2 separate regions of the Homo sapiens genome follow, and region 2 is linked to region 1. A link means that fine-mapping ties the variant in region 1 to the expression of a gene that starts in the linked region. Tissue or cell type: lung. Region 1 holds a variant in brackets; the other region holds the start of a gene. All regions are shown on one strand. Distances are between the middles of the regions.

What was found. PIP is the estimated chance that this variant, and not a neighbour inherited with it, causes the effect.
Region 2: it holds the start of ZFP28, and the variant in region 1 is fine-mapped to the expression of ZFP28 in lung (TOPMed, PIP above 0.99). The same link has a PIP of 0.9 or more in ovary, prostate, thyroid and tibial nerve.

What each region holds. Positions count from the first base shown.
Region 1 is chr19:56,509,059-56,517,259 of GRCh38, reverse strand. It overlaps ZNF471 (zinc finger protein 471), which reads right to left. Exons shown (of 5, transcript NM_020813.4): 2 at 5,656-5,743; 3 at 859-985. The coding sequence starts at 5,688. Among named protein-coding and RNA genes, the nearest start is that of ZNF471, 5.3 kb to the right of the region's middle. The variant A/G (reference allele first, on the strand shown) is at 4,448.
Region 2 is chr19:56,534,506-56,542,663 of GRCh38, reverse strand. ZFP28 (ZFP28 zinc finger protein) reads right to left here and starts at 3,716. Exons shown (of 8, transcript NM_020828.2): 1 at 3,438-3,716; 2 at 2,948-3,039. The coding sequence starts at 3,645. ZFP28-DT (ZFP28 divergent transcript) reads left to right here and starts at 3,930. Exons shown (of 3, transcript NR_183967.1): 1 at 3,930-4,239; 2 at 4,927-5,013; 3 at 6,332-6,508.

The DNA.
Region 1 (8,201 bases):
TTGGGAGGCTAAGGCAGGAGAATTGCTTGAACCTGGGAGGTGGTGGGCCAAGATTGCGCCACTGCCCTCCAGCCTGGGCAACAGAGCAAGACTGTCTCAAAAAAAAAAAAAAAAAGAGAGCGAGAGAAAAATTAAAATTAAAACAGAACAAAGATTTTTAAAAGTGAAACAATCCTTAGTTACCTAGGGCACAATATCAAACAATCTAACATAGGTGTAACTGAAGTCCAAAACAGAAAAGAACAGAAAAAAAGATTTGAAGAAATAATGGCTAAAAATCTCCCAAATTTGGTTTAAGATATAAATTTAGTTTCAAGAAGCTCAATGAACCACAAGCATAATCAAAAGGGCTTCTGGAGAACAGAAAGCTAATCTAGCCAATGGGGTGGCCCCAGTGCTTAGAAGAAAGGTCCATAGGAATTTCCCTAACAGTAAGTGATCTGAAGCCATTTTCAGTTTGTGTCTTCAGTTTGTTACTTAATACAAAGATACAGATTTTAAAAGTGATATTCTGAATTTATAGTAATCTAGCTATATATTCTTTGTGAACCTTGTTGTTGTCTAGTGGTGATAGTAATTCTGTAGGAGAGAGAGAACAAGGAAACTGAGGAGACTGGTGAGATTCACATTGTGTCTTGTGTTCCCAATTGCCTTAAGGGTGTATGCATGGAATATTTGATATTCTCCAAATTCACTAACTCTAAATCTCAAGTTTTCTTCAGTCCCTCAATATCCTCTGTTTCTCAGATTCCATTCCCAAATTCCATTCTGACCTACATATAATAAAAGCAAATTTAATAATATATAGACAAAAAAGTTCCTTAAAGGTAGATTATGCAGGAGGGAAAAGATCCTCACCAAGTGATACCAGGCTCTGATAGTTCTCCAACATCATACTCCTGTATAAACGCTTCTGAGCAGGGTTCATCCATTGCCATTCTTCCTGGGAAAAATCTATTGCCACATCCTTGAATGTCACTAAGTCCTGAAGTGACAAATATATTCTTAACCAACCAATGCTCGTGTCCAAAGATAACTCTGAGTTGATCCAAAGTGTCTCTACTTTAGGTGAGAAATAACTCATAGAAGAGAAAAAACATAAATAGGAAGATCCAAGCCAAAACAGTACTTATGGAAGTGTTTAACTGCATTGGGTACAATGGGGCCAATCGATTCCGAACATAGGGAAATATGGGTGCATAACTACAAGGCAGTGAAGACGGCTTCAAGGGAGAACACACACCTGTGTTGAATCTTCAAAAGCATAAAAGGAATATCTAAACTGATATTTTTCAAATGATACTCCATGGGATCCAAGTTTTATTGGCAGGGGCTGGAGAAAGGCATTGAACTAATGTAGCTGATTTTTTTTTCTTAAATAATAAAAACATGTTTAAGAATGCAATTTTCTTAGGTCTGCATCAGTGAATACTGTGTTTTCCACCCACGGTTGGTAGAACCCACAGTTGCAGAACAAAATGAAATTGAAGTTATAACTTTTAAATATTCTTAGAGAAAAATTAATGACCAGTTATAATCACCAGCAGCTTGTAAGAAATTTTAAAAGTTATTGTGGGCATTTTTCACCTTCAGATTTACTTCCGTTGAAAATGAATATCTTCTTAATCTTAGTGCCTGATTTGCAAAGTTATCAAAAATATAACTAAAGACAAGGTTATGAGCACATTTTAATTCGCTTTAAACAGTAATCTCTGTATCATGTCTTTGTTCTGAAGATTAGTGTTTAAAAGCACATTTTAAACAGATATTCAATGTACGGGACTTTAGAAGATATACATACCTTTAGGAAAATGTTTAATATATTTTTCATATAAAAGAATTACAAAATTGTTTACATTTCTCTGTGTACTCACAGTTTTACTGAATTCTAGTTTTCACCTTCTAGTGAGTTGAGAACTAAGAACCATCATTTCACATATTCTTATAAAATGAGATGTATTCCTCAATGCAAGCAAAAGGTGTTCACATTCTTTCCAATATTTAGGATAATTTTGCTGACTATTAAGGACAGAGGAGCTTTGGCTGTTCCCACAGAAAAAACTGCTTTTGATCCTGGTACTTATGGTTAGTAATCTAGTATATATACTACCAGAATTTTACCAATATCTATAGAATAACTTTACATATATGTATGCATGTATATGTAGTGATTTTTTTTAACTGATAATGCTATAACCAATGAAGTAAATCCCAATGGATAGCATCTGAAGAGCTTGTAATTCTTTTTTCTTTTTAAGGACACAACCATTTATTGCAAGGTATCAGATAATTTATGAAATTTCCAGGAGGATTAATACTGAGTAAGTGACTAAATTAAGACTAAATAAATAAATGAGGAAAATAGGCAAATATCTCATTTAGAAGATCTTTCAAATGATTTATGTTTGCCCTTAAGGAGGTAGAACATAATTTCCCACTTCTGGAGTGTAGGTTGTGCATAGTGACTTCCTTACAAACAGTACAGTATGGAAAAGTGAGGGAAAAAAGAGTAACCTTATTATAGAGAAACCTGACAAACACTACCTCAAAGTTAATTAAGTTAACATCTATTAACATCAACAGTAATAAATCATGTTTACAGTGTGCACCCCTGATTTGATGTGATGAAAAAGGAACTTTACCTCTGCAGTCTTCCTCCCCAAAACACAGTACCCTAGTCTAATCATGAAAAAGCATCAGATTTGAGACATTCTACAAAATAACTGAGTATTCCTCAAAGCTGACAAGGTCATCGATAAGCAAAGTATGAAAAACTATCACAGCTAAGAGGAGTCTTAGGAAATATGACTATTAAATGTAATGTAATTTCCTAGATAGAATCCTGGCACAGAAAAAAAACATTAGATAAAACCTAAGAAAGCCTGGCCGGGTGCAGTGGCTTACACTTATAATCCCAGCACTTTGGGAGGCCAAGGCCGGTAGATCACTTGAGGCCAGGAGCTCAAGACCAGCCTACATAGCATGGCAAGGACAACATGGCAAAACCCCACCTCTACCAAAAATACAAAAATTGGCTGTGCATGGTGGTGCATGCCTATAATCCCAGCTACTCGAGTGGCCGAGGCACGAGAATTGCTTGAACTGGAGAGGCAGGTTATAGTGTGCTATGATCCTGCCACTGCACTCCAGCCTGGGTGACAGAGTGAAACTCTGTCTCAAAAAAAAAAAAAAAAAAAAAATTAAAAAGTTAAAACAATGAAAGAAAATCTAAACTAAGCACGGACTTTAGTTACTAATAACATATCAATATTGGTTCATTAATTTTAACAAAAGTACCACACTAATGTAAAATATTAATAGGGGAAGCTTGGTGTGGTATAAGATTTCTCTACACTATCTCTGCAATTTTTCTACAAATCTAAAACTATTCTAAAAAATAAAATTTATTTTTTAAGTAGACCTTCTCAAGAGGAGGACATCAAAGCTTCAAACTATCTTTTAAAAATATATAAAGTCTAGCACTAAACCCAAAATGAGGCATTTAAGACAAAAAACAAGATAATTTTCAAAACATCACAAAATAGAAACACATAAGAGATCCAGATAATGGAATTATCCAACAAGGATACCAAAATATTATGATAATATTTTTAAGGAGCTAAAAGGAAAGGTAGTGAATTCAGGAAGAAAATAGAAAATTACATAAAACAATTAAATAGAAATTCTAGAACTAAGTATGCAATAACAGAAGTTAAGAATTCCATTATGGGCTTAACAGGAGATTAGAGAATTAAAGAGAGAATTAAAGCATAAGTGACATATAAAACAGTGTCAGTTATGTATATAATTGTGATCTTAGAAAAAGAGGAAAGTTTCAGAATATTTGTGGTTGAAAAATTTCCAAATTGATGAAAGACACCAAGCTACGCTGAACACTGACTTAAAACAAAAATAGTGAATAATGTTTACAGTCTATCAAATAAGCATGTGTGTGTGCATTTCAGGTGGTGGGGTTAATGGACTGCATCTTTATCATCTATAGTAGTAGGTTACTGGATCATTTCTAAAACTAAAATAATCAAGAAATAGTGTATGGAACATTATTCAGGAGTATGAGGTTAAATATCAAAACTAAAGACAGTAAGTTGTATTGTGGAGATCCCAACTTACTTCTATAGGGCAAATTGGAGGGGACTAATTCTGTTGTGTATGGTGCTTGTGACTTCAGGTAGAATTTTAATGACAACATGAGGCACACAAACTAAAAGGTCTGTATCTTTGGAAAATTATGTTAGGTAACTCACAAAATGGTTTTAATGCTGAGGAAGACACAGATGCCCAGAATCCATGTAAATGTTTTTTAATATCTCATGAACTCTGACAGCACAAGAAAAAAAAGCAGTGTTTCAAAATTAATTTAACGTAACTTTCCATATGAAGCATATAAATTAATTAAGCATTAATTATGGACATCTGACACTCATGT[A/G]TGTCATGAAAACACATTTTCCACTTAGAAAAAATGTGAGGAGGGGAATTTCACAGTGGGAGAATTAAGGATTCCTTTTTATACATTGTTTCTTATACATGTGCAATATAATATTTAAAAATTAAAAGATTAAAAGCAGAAATTCAAGTAAAACTGAGTGTAGTACAGCAACAGAACCAAATACACACAGGAATTTAGTGCATGATATAGGTGGCATTTCAAATTAGTGAGAATGAGATGAATAATTCAATTAATGCCATTGTGCCAACTTGAAAAAATAAATCTCTGCCTCACTTATTATAAATTATACATGTAATGTAAAAATGTAATGTAAATTAAATGTAAAAATCTAATGTAAATTAAATTTAACATAAAAAGTTAATGTAATTTCAGCCCTACCATGATAGAAAACCACAAAAATCAAGTCTAAGCTTACCAGAAACTTAACTGTGAAGGATAAAACAAATCTTAGAAGAAAAATAGGACCTAAAGGTAGACAAAAATTTCATCAACAAGACACGAAAAATCATTAACTTTGAAGGGAAGAAAGTATTTTTGTATACACGCAAAGGCATAACATAGCTCTGAATGAGATACATGGTGAGAATAACTTCTTAAAATAACTGGGAGTTAAGGGTGAAATTTGTTTGTAAATTTTGTACCATGTCAACTTCTCACCTATTTAAATTTATAAAATTTGCAAAAATTAAGTAGAATAAGATTTTTCAGGTGAACGAATGAGGTTGGTAATTCATACTTAAAATGTAAAGAAAAACTTTTAAAGAATTTATCTTAAGGACATAATTAGAGATTTGGAGAAAACTTCAGGTAGAGGAATAATTCCTAATGCATTCTATATATAGGAAACGCACTGCATGCACATTTAACCTGGAGCCCAACTCACTAGTACTAACATATCCACATGTATATTCCACACAACATAAATCAAGTCTTTTCACAAGAGTCAACACTAAATTTAAAATGTACACAAGGTGGGAAGAGGAATCTCAGAGGGACCTCCATGACTTTTTATACTAAGCTATTACTCACTCATTAGGTAATTAGAGTTAAAGACAGTGGCCCCTGAGAGAAGTGGGAACTAGGCTCCTGGACTGTTAATCAGGGAATTTTCAAAAGAAAAGAAGCATTACAAAAAGTCCTAAACAGCAAGACTGCCTTTCATGAAGAGAAAGAAAATATCCACTAACCTGGGGCATGACTTTTACTACTTCAACATTCATTTTTGCCTTCTCTTCTGGTCTTTCTCTTGAAGAACAGTGTCTTGGGAGGGCAAGGCTGAAGGAAGGGAAAGGTTAGAGAGAGATGAGGCCAGAGATGCTGCACTCCCAGAATCACTAGCCTAAAACTGTCTTCTTCTTCCCAGCTTTGGTTGATCCCATAACTGGGTATGAGCAACCTATGGCCACTGAAGGGCTAAAACTCATAACGGTTTTTTTTTTTCATGCTTGAGGTCCTAAATTTAATCTTTTTCAAAGAGCTACCTTCCCATTCAGATGCATTAGGTACTCTGCATAGATTAGATTATCTCACTTTATTTTTCAAATAATCCTATAAAATAGTCATTTCCTCCATTTTACAGGTAAAGGTGGAGTCATTCTCTTCTTGGGTCTCTGCTTCATGCTTTGAAAGTCTACTGTTTGAAAATCTGGCTCCTTTCTGGGCCAGATGGATGGGGTTTTTGGGAAAAAAAAAAAAACAAAAGAAAAAGGAAAATCTGACTCCCAAATGCCACCAGAGGCCAGGGTTATCCTCCTTCTTCACTCAATCCCCACCACTGCATCCCTGACCCACCCCCCGGCACTGTTTCACTTTCCTCACCCTGAAACGATGGAACCTTTAGCACTCAATTCTGCCACTTTCACTCTCACCTCTGTCCCAGCCCCTTAATTACCCTCCTGTCACACAGAAGTGAGGGTGTCTCCTGCTTCAGTTAGGAGCTTCAGTCACCCCAGCTTTGCTTCTTACTGAAACCCTTGGACTGGGGACAGGAATTCTATTCCACATTTCCTATCCCGGCAACACACAATTCCAAACAGCCACACTCATAAAGAATCCAATCCTATCAATCTTCCAAGTAGTCTCTCCATACACAGCAGTCATACAGGGCCACAATTATGGGTATACAGGGTGACATACAAACACTAACACAGGTTTCATGGTCACACGGAGGACACAATCACAAGCACCCCAAAACAAGCACATATACACAGTCACATTTCCATTGCCTGAGGACATGAATATAAGCACACGTGGTGATTCACCAACACCTTCACACATACCCCCAATCTTACTTCTCTCACACACACAGCTCACTGTCCCTTATCTCTGTCTCACTCACACATGCATGCTTCACAACCTCACAGAGGTTATATTTGTAAAGCCTTTTGGATAACACACCATGGTTCACATAGTTTCTTTCTCACCCATTTTGGTCTCTCACACAACCACATCACTAGTCTTTCTCTCCCTCTTTCACACATATAAACATGATGGTCTCTCATACATACACATTCAATGGTATCTTTCAAAGAGGCCTCAGTTACTCAAATGCTCCAGTGTCTCACACAGATACACAAACACACTCTGATCTCTCATATTCCAACTGCTTTATCTCATGCACACAAAATACATACTGGTCACTCTCACTCCAATCTTTTTCATACTGTGATACACCCTCTCACAACCTACCAGTCCAGACAGAGACATACTCTAGTCTCTCACATACCCATTGGTCTCTCACACACTCACACCAACATACCCCAGTCTCTCCCAATCACTGAACTCTCAGTCTAGTCTCTTGCTTTTACTCAGACACACACATGATCTTTCTCAGACTCCAGGGAGCCTCATACTTGTTCATCTTTCACACAGGCACATCTATTTCTCTCACACATTGATATACCCTGGTCTCACACTCTGGATTCTCACAATCCAGTCCCTGATAACACACTCAGGTGACAAAGAGGAAAAACAAACTGTTTCTCCTACTCCACTCACACAACACAAAACAGTTCTAAGACCAGATGTGTGGGGATCTACACACACACACACACACACACACACACACACACACACACCAGGCAAGCAATAAGTTCTTCAGTGAATACCAGGTGGGTGACCTCTAGGGCAACCCAGTGAATACCAGGTGGGTGACCTCTAGGGCAACCCAATTCTGACACTATCTACCTGGAGACAGCATAAGATCCCACAGGTTGAGGGCTCAGCCCTACAAAATTGCTCCCCACTTCCAATGCCAGTTGCAAACCCCAGGTTGTTTTACTTGTGCTTCTGACTAGCTATAAATCGGGGTTCCTATGACCCCCTCCTTGCGTTCAATTAATTTGCTAGGGCAGCTCACAGAACTTAGGGAAACACGTTTGTAGTAATAAAGGATATTACAAAGGATGCAGGTGAAGAAATGCATAGGACAAGGTTATATAGGAAGGGGCTCATCCTACAGGAACCTCCAGTGTTCAGCTATCTGGAAGTTTGATGAACCCAGTCCTTTTGGGTTTTTATGGAAGCTTCATAATGTAGGCATGACTGGTTAAATCACTGACCACTGATGATCAGTTTAACCTGTGGCTCCCTTTCCTTTCCCTGGAGATTGAGGGATGGGGCAGGTAATCCCAACCCTCTAATCCTGCCTAGATTGTTCTTGTGACCATCCCTTACCGTGATCAACCTACAGGCTGCCAGCCCACCAATCATTAGCATGCAAAAAGACACTTAA
Region 2 (8,158 bases), 25 kb before region 1:
ATTCAAACATTCATCCACCAAATATTTTCTGTATCAGACATTAGGCAAAACTGCCCCAAATCCTTGCCTATGAAGTAAGGAAATGAGACAAGAGAAACTGAGATAAATTAAGTAAAATACATTTGACCTTCGAACAACATGGATCTGGGCTGCAAGGGTCCACCTATATGCAAATTTTTTCAACCAAATGCAGACTGAAAATACAATTATTGTCTGGGCGCGGGGAATCACACCTCTAATCGCAGCAATTTGGTAGCCCAAGGCGGGCGGTTGCCTGAGGCCAGGAGTTCGAGACCAGCCTGGGAAACATGGCAAAACCCCATCTCTACAAAAAATACAAAAATTAGCTGGGCATGGTGGCACATGCCTGTAATTCCAGCTACTTCGGAGGCTGAGATGGGAGCACTGCTTGAGCCTGGGGAGGTCAAGGCTGCAGTGAGCCGTGATGGCACCACTGCACTCCAGCCTGGGTGACAGAGTGAGACCTTGTCTCAAAAAAGATTATTTGTGGTATGGAAAACCTGTGTCCACTGAGGGCTGACTTCTCATATCTGCAGGCTCCACATGGCTGATGAATAAGTGCAAATTTTGGTATACGTGGGATTTCTGTATATAGTATGTTGAAAAGTACTACGAGGGCCAGGCACAGTGGCTCATGGCTGTAATCCCAGCACTTTGGGAGGCTGAGGTGGGCGGATCACTTGAGGTCAGGAAATCGAGACCAGCCTGGCCAACATGGTGAAACCCTGTCTCTAAAAAAAAAAAAAAAAAAAAAAAAAAAAAAAATTAGCCAGGTGTGGTGGCTACTCGGGAGGCTGAGGAAGGAGAATCATTTCAACTCAGGAGGCGGAGGTTGCAGTGAGCCGAGATCACGCCACTGTACTCCAGCCTGAGTGACAGAGCAAAACTCTGTCTCAAAAGAAAAGTACTAAAAGAAAAAAGCAAAGCAGGGAAGAGGGATGTGAAGAACAGGTAGGAGGCTCTGAAATTCTAGACAGGGTGAGCAGGAAAATGAGAAGGCGATTTTTCAGAAAGAAGAGAGTGATGTAGATGTCAGGGGTAACAAGGAGCCAGGTCATGTAGGGCCTGGTCAGTAACAGGAAGAGTTTTGGCTTTTATTCAGAGAAACCACTGGAGGGTCCTGAGCACAGCGTGACACAAGGTGACATGTTTGAATAGACCCCTCTGGCTGCTCATCGGGAAGGGGCTGTGGGGAGCGTGAGCAGAAGCAGGAGGTCACAGAAGCACAGTCAAGAAGCCCACAGTAAAAGGAGGACTTGGACCTGCTGCTGGTGATAGATGTGATGAAAACTGCCAGATTCTGCACATAATTTGCAAATAGAACTGACAGGATTTGCATCAGGACCAAATATGGAAGGAAAAGGCAAGAAATGAGCCAATCATGACAAGGCTTCCGGACTGAGTAACTGAGAGGATGAAACGGCCACTGACTAAGACTCAAACTGTGGGAGGAGCTGGTTTATGGGAGACTCTCAGGACTTCGGGTCTGGACAGGCTGTCTTGAGTTACCCATCAGACACTCAGGCAGAGGAGTGGAGCAGGATACACAGGCCGGCGGCTCAGAGGAGAGGTTTGGGCTCACAATGTGAATCTGGGAGGAGCCACCATGTGGGTAGGTTGTACAGACAAGGAACAGGCTACTATCCCCAGGAGACAGCATGCAGACAAAAAAAGAAAGGGCCATGAGCAGAGTGCTGAGGCACACTCTGTTCAAGTCACGGAGGTAAGAACTGTGGCAAAAACTGAGCAGTCAGGAAGATGAAAGTCAGATGAGTGTGAGATCCCAGTAGCCAAGGGAAAAAAGGGGGCCTATTGAAGGACAGGGATGAGCTATTTGAGGGATAGGTAGCCACCTGTTTTGTAACTGAAGTTTTACTGGAACACAGCCCATCCATTCATTTACATATTGTCTTTGGCTACTTTAGCTCTATAAGAGCAGAAAGGAGTAGATGCAGCAGGACTTTCAAAGCCTAACATATTTTCTGCTGTGGCCTCATCCAGCACAAGTTTGCCAGCCTCTGAGCTATTTCAAATACCAATGATAGTCAAAAAAGACTAAGAATTGAGCACTGCATCTGGTAATGTGAAGATCACAGTAACCCACTCAAGAGCAGTTTGGGTAGGACAACTGGAAGCTGGTTCATCTGTACATATATTTTTTGAGGCCTCAGTGGAAGTGAAATGGTTCATCTATTAATGAGCTAGCTATGATATTTATAGGAGAAGCCAACCGAAACAAACACAACTATTTACTGGCATGTTTTAAAGCCACAAAATCAAGTGGAAAAGCCTTTCATATTGCGCCTCCTCTCCCTAAAATGTTGTCTTTCTTTACTGTGCCTCCCAAACATCTTCTCTCCCTTCAAGGCAAGGCTCAAAAATCACCTCCTTGGTAAATAGGCCTACCCTTCCGCTACAGGAGGCTGGAAGCCAGGAGCGCCTTGTAGTCCTCGCTCATAATACTTGGCCCAAGGATGATCACATTCTAGAATCTTGCTTGTTTCCTTGACATTGGGTCAACAGGCTGTGAGCTCCAGAGCAGGGACTAGGGCTTAGCTATTGGTTTGCTCAGTGGCTGGCACAAAGTGGTCACCAAACAAACCATGTATAGCAGAAGAGTCTGCCGTGTTCCTCAAGGGGCACAATTCCTCCATCAGAGTCCCTCTGAGAAAAGCGGTACAAGGGAGAGGCTGAATCATTTCATCAATCAAGAATGAAGGCTGATTGGGATGAAGAAGAAGCAGGCATCGAGGCCCCGGGCAGTTTAAACTTTTCCCCGTAGCCCATCACTTCACTAGAACGTGAAGAAATAGAAACCCGCGCCCAAACAGGTCTCTTAAACTGAAAACTTTCAAGAAAATAAGCAACATTAAGTCCCGAAAAGCAAGACTGCATTTCAGAGACAAGAGATGAAATGCCAACTCACCTGGGACATGGCTTTAGGTTCAATTCCTGTCCCCACAGCCTCCAGCTTCTTGTTTCTCTCCTGGGGAAGAGCAGTGTCCCTGGAAGGCAGAGCTGAAAGAGAAAGGAGTAGCTAGAGACCAGGTCTACACCACAGTCCCAAATCACCAGCCTAGAAACGTCCCTTCCTGCATGAAAAGGTGGGATCAGATCATTACCCTGCCTAGGGACTGCCACAACGTGGAGATAGGTTTTTTTCCTCCCTGGGAGCACGAAAACAGGAAAAGCGTCTAGTTAGAGTCACCCTGGGAAAGTCAACACCCTTTTACCGCGGCTTGCTGCTCTGAATCAGTTGAGCTTCCAAATCTTCAGATTCTCCCACTCCACCAGCTTCAAAGACCAGGGGCACAGTTCTCCAGCAACTGGTCCCCGAGAGCCCAACCCCCTCCCAGATCTCATCCCGAGATGAATTCGTCCCTGTCCGCTCGGCCCCAAACACCTGTCACTCTCACCTCTGTGCCCAGGCCCCGTAGGGGCCGCTCCTCGCTGGCCTTTGGATGCGAGGCCATTCCTTGAGCGCGGCCTTCCCCGGGCAGGGAGGGCCAAGGTGGCTGGAGTCCCTACAGTCGGGCCTCGGCCCGCCCGGGGCTTTGTGCGGGGGGCGCCTCTACCCGGGAGCGGCGTCGGCTCGCGGACACTCGCGCTCGCCGCCCCCCGCATGTCACCCGAGGCCGCGCGACGCCCTTCCGACCGGTCCCTCACAGACCCACACCCCTGGCCACACCCGCCCGCCACGCCCAGCGAACAGCCCCGCGCGCGCTCCCCCATGGCCCGGCATCCACTGGGCCGCGCCGCGGAGCCGCCCCGCCCCCGGCCGCGCCCCGCCCCTCCCCACCCCTCCCCGCTGCCCCGCCCCGCCCCGCCCCGCCCCGCCCCGCCCCGCCCCGCCCCGCCCCGCCCCGCCCCGCCCCTCAGCCTAGAGAAGCCCGGCGCTTCCCACTTCCAGTGCGCAGGCAGCGCCGCCGGAACCGGGCGTGGCCTCGGCGCAATGCCCGCTGGGAAGCGTAGTCCCAAGCAGGGACGGATGCGGCGGCCCTCGGAGCTCAGGTTGCAAGATACGGTTTGGCCCCGGGCCTATGCAACGCCCGTCCGTCCTGCCCTCTGCGGGTCGCTCTCACTTGTCCCTGGACCGCAGCCGCCGCATAAGTGGTGGCCAACGCTGGGCCTGGGTGTGGCCGGAAGCAGAGGCCGCTCTGACTACACACCCACCCCCCAAAGGCTTCTGGGAGTCGCGCAGGCGCAGCGGCAGACCGGGTGAGGCGGGGCTTGCGGCGAGGGGTGGGACCGCAGGGCCGGAGTAAAAGGGTGCTTGGCTGTGACAGGTGCTAAGGGCCTGGGCGTCAGCTCCTTGCGGGAGCGTCACTGCCGACCGGGAAGGGAAAGGCAATCTTGGGGGCCTCCGGAGTCCGGAGGATCACTCTGATGGGTGATGTGTGTGGGCTAGGAAGGGGGATGTAGAGAGCTTGTGGGATTGTTTTGGGTGCCCCCTCACCTTCTCCCATTATCTCTGGCTACACGGGCCTCCCATCCTCCAAAATACCATTTTCCATTTTGTAACCTATGTATTTGCACGTCCTGGGTCGAAATAGTCTAACCCCAAATTTTCGTCTGGGCTGGCTCCTTTATGCCATTCACTTGTCATCGCCTCAGAGAGGGCTGCCTAACGTCTCAAAAATACCAGCCCTGGCGACCTCTTAAAGTTCCCTTCCTGTGTGAATCACGGTCTGAAGTTAGCTGATGGATTTATTCTTGAACATGTTTAGGACCGGTCTCTCCCCCAGGGGCCTTATCAGAACTGGAGAGCTTCATCCTGGGAGCCAAGGGCCTTGCTGGCTCACAGGCAGTGATGCTGTTACACCAGTCATCACAGATGCACTGACCTCTGCACGCCCAGTCACACTGCACGCCTGGTCTCCTTACTCTTGAATTGATTTCTTTCAGGTCTCCTGGCCTCAGTGATGGAATTAAGATGACTTCTATCTCTGAATCCAAGGGTGACTGAAAGCCGCAAGCTGCAGAAAGGACAAGGTCAGCATTTCTCTCAAAGCACTTCAGTCTCATAGAAAAGGCTTAGTTTCAGTCAGGTGGACCTAGCCATGTAATAGCTGTGGCAGACACTGCTAATGGTCTCTCTGGTGTCTATTTTGCACTCCTTCCACAGCAGAACATTGATGCTCTTCAAGTGGCCATCTGCCCAGCTTATAATACTCACCTCCCCAGTCTCCTTGTAAGGAGTAGTGGCTCTGTAACCAATGAATTTTAAGTACACATTTGCTGGGGGTTTGGTGGATGTGTGGAAAGAGACACAGCTGGCATGTAACTCTGGCCTTTTGTCATCTCACACAACCTTCTTCCTGCTTGGGTATGACACAGGATGTCAACAGGTAGAACAGCTGTAGAGAGCTGGCAAAGGGATCGTGGCCAACTCAACATTCCACTGGAGGCTATATGATCAAACAGCAAACTGTTTATCATGAATGCAGAATGTGGGCAAAGTCGCTTCTGCTCCAGCCACCAGAAGGTTTGCTGAAGGCAATCACTCCCTGGTGTCATGCTCCTTGAGGTTATCTAATGGGACATCTAGAGCCTATTGGTTGACGAATGCAGTCTTGCAAGCCTGCTGTAAATCAAGCTACTGACCGACAACCACCCCCCTTCTCCCTATTCACTCTAATAAATACGAAGGGCTGTAAAGGCTCAGGGCCTGTGTTCACTGGAAGCAAGGAGCCCCCAGACCTCTTCTTCCAAATATACTCTTTTGTCTTTGTCTTTATTCCCATGTTTGTCATCCTTTGTTCAGTCCAACAAGGATAGGGTCCGCTGCAAACAGCCACCTTGGCATCATGAGGATGAAAGTTATGCTAAAGATGGCTTAGCAGAAAAAAAGAGAAATAAACAATCAAAGAAATGGTATTAGAAATGAAAAAGTGGACATAATCACAGAAATTTTTAGAATTTTGCAAATACTGTGATCACCTTATCTCAATATATTTAAAACATATGCAGGGGCTTACCATAGAGAAAATTATAAGTACCAAAACTGACTCAAGAAGAAATGGAAAATCATTAAATAAGTTCTCAGGCTTTTCCATGAATACCAAAGCAATAAATAATCCTTATCCTATAAAACTATACTGGAGAATTTAAAACTAGACACCCTTGATACCAAAACTGGACAAGGACAGTAGGGAAAGAATTTAAGTAGGGAAAGAATTCCAATCTTCAGGGACAACATACACATTAAAATCCTACCTAAAGTGACAATAAACAAAGTCCAGCAATACATAGAAAAATATGTCATGTCCAAGGAAGATATGTCAGAATACTTTCATGTTCTGGAATGTAGAGGCATCACCTATGTGGATAAAGACAGCATCCTGAGTTGATGGAGAAATGGCATAGAAGGAACCAGGTCCTTTGATGACATCATGGAGCAAAGCTGTCTTCTTGCCTTGACCTGCTACCTACCTACATGGGAAGCTGTTACTTGAGAAGGCAATAAAATCTATCTTCTTTATTGACAGAGTTGACAATACCTTTTTTATCTTATTGTAGCAGTCACTTATCCTCAAATGACTGCTATATCCTATTTTCCTATTATATGGGGCTATATGCGTCCTTGTTCATATTTAGCAGAGAAGCAACAGAAGCACACTAAAGAATTATGAAGAAAAATATTTCAATATATCCAAATTTTTAGAGAGCTATAAGAATAATTTCATTATTAAGTTCTCCTGCAGCAGGAAGTTGACAAAATATCTCATCTTAACCACCAGGAGTTACACTGTGCTTTTTTTATAAACCCAAAACTATAGCTTTTTGAAAAACAGAAACCAACAAGAAAGATGAATAATCTCCCGGCTGAATCATTTAGATTAAGCTGATACAACTTATGAACTACTGCCAATCTTCACATTTGCCATATTTATAAATTGTTTTATTAATTTTTTTAAAAATTCAGTATAAAGAGTAATATATACTCACAATAGGCAAAAATAAAATTTATAGCACAAAGAAAGGATGTCATATGCTTAGGTGTCAGATGTTTAACAAACAGAATGTACAACATAATGACATTTGATTTGGGAAATAATACTTAGTCCAATGAATTTAGTTATCCAAGGAATCTACTGATTAAAAATATGAATTTTCTATAAAATCATAATTTCTGATTCTATATTTTTCTCTGGAGAGGTATTTTATGTTTTATGTCCATAGGGCCTTACCACATCATGGGACATAAGTCTTTCCTTAGTCACTCAGGAATAGCCTTGTGATATCTGGCTAAGATGAAGGGCAGTCTACTCCTGTCACTGGGAATTCAGTCAGCTTTCGATGAATCATCTGAGGGTGGAAGAGACACCTGAGCACAAGTTGAGTTTTGTTAGAAAAGACAAAAAGGAGACTGGATGCCAAGCAGGTAACCAACAGTACATACTGCCAAGAAGTTATCACAGGAGTGCCACGGTGGGGAGCCTGTTAATATCATTCACCACTATTAATAAATAAGGATGAAACAGTTCCTGGAATCATCTCAATAGATGATTGAGATAAAATGCAGCTCACACCTGTGATTTTAAAAAGAAAAAGCCTTAGCAAACTAGGAATGGTGGAGAGCTTCCTTACTTGGATAAGAAGATGGAATAAAATTATTATAAACCCCAAATACTTTCATTCAGCTTTGGTTAAAATGGTCTGTCAACATCAGACTGGAAAGCAAAGGTTTCCATAGGTAGTCCTGAAAATGGAAAGCAGTGGCATAGACTTTGTCTTTTATTATAAATAATATTTACTCATAACTTATTATTAATTGGAAAATGGAAAAAAAAAGCCTCAGACCAAGAGGTGAAACCTCACTTAGGTTAGATTTTGTGAGCCTACTTTAAAAGCAGTAGAGTGATAAATTGGCCTTCATCAAACTGAGATACACAGCATGTGAAATAAAAAATTCACTGGGCTTAAAAGCAGAATGGAAACAAAAGAAGTAAGACTAAGTGAACTTGAAGAGAGATTGATGGCAATTATCCAATCTGAAGCACAAAGGAAAAAAAGTTGGGGGGAGAAAAACACTGCTTCAGAGCAATGAACAGGCAGTAACTAAAATTCAAAATACAATACCATTTCCGATTATGAATTTTAGCTCCAGATCAACTGCAAGAACAAACCAGAAATC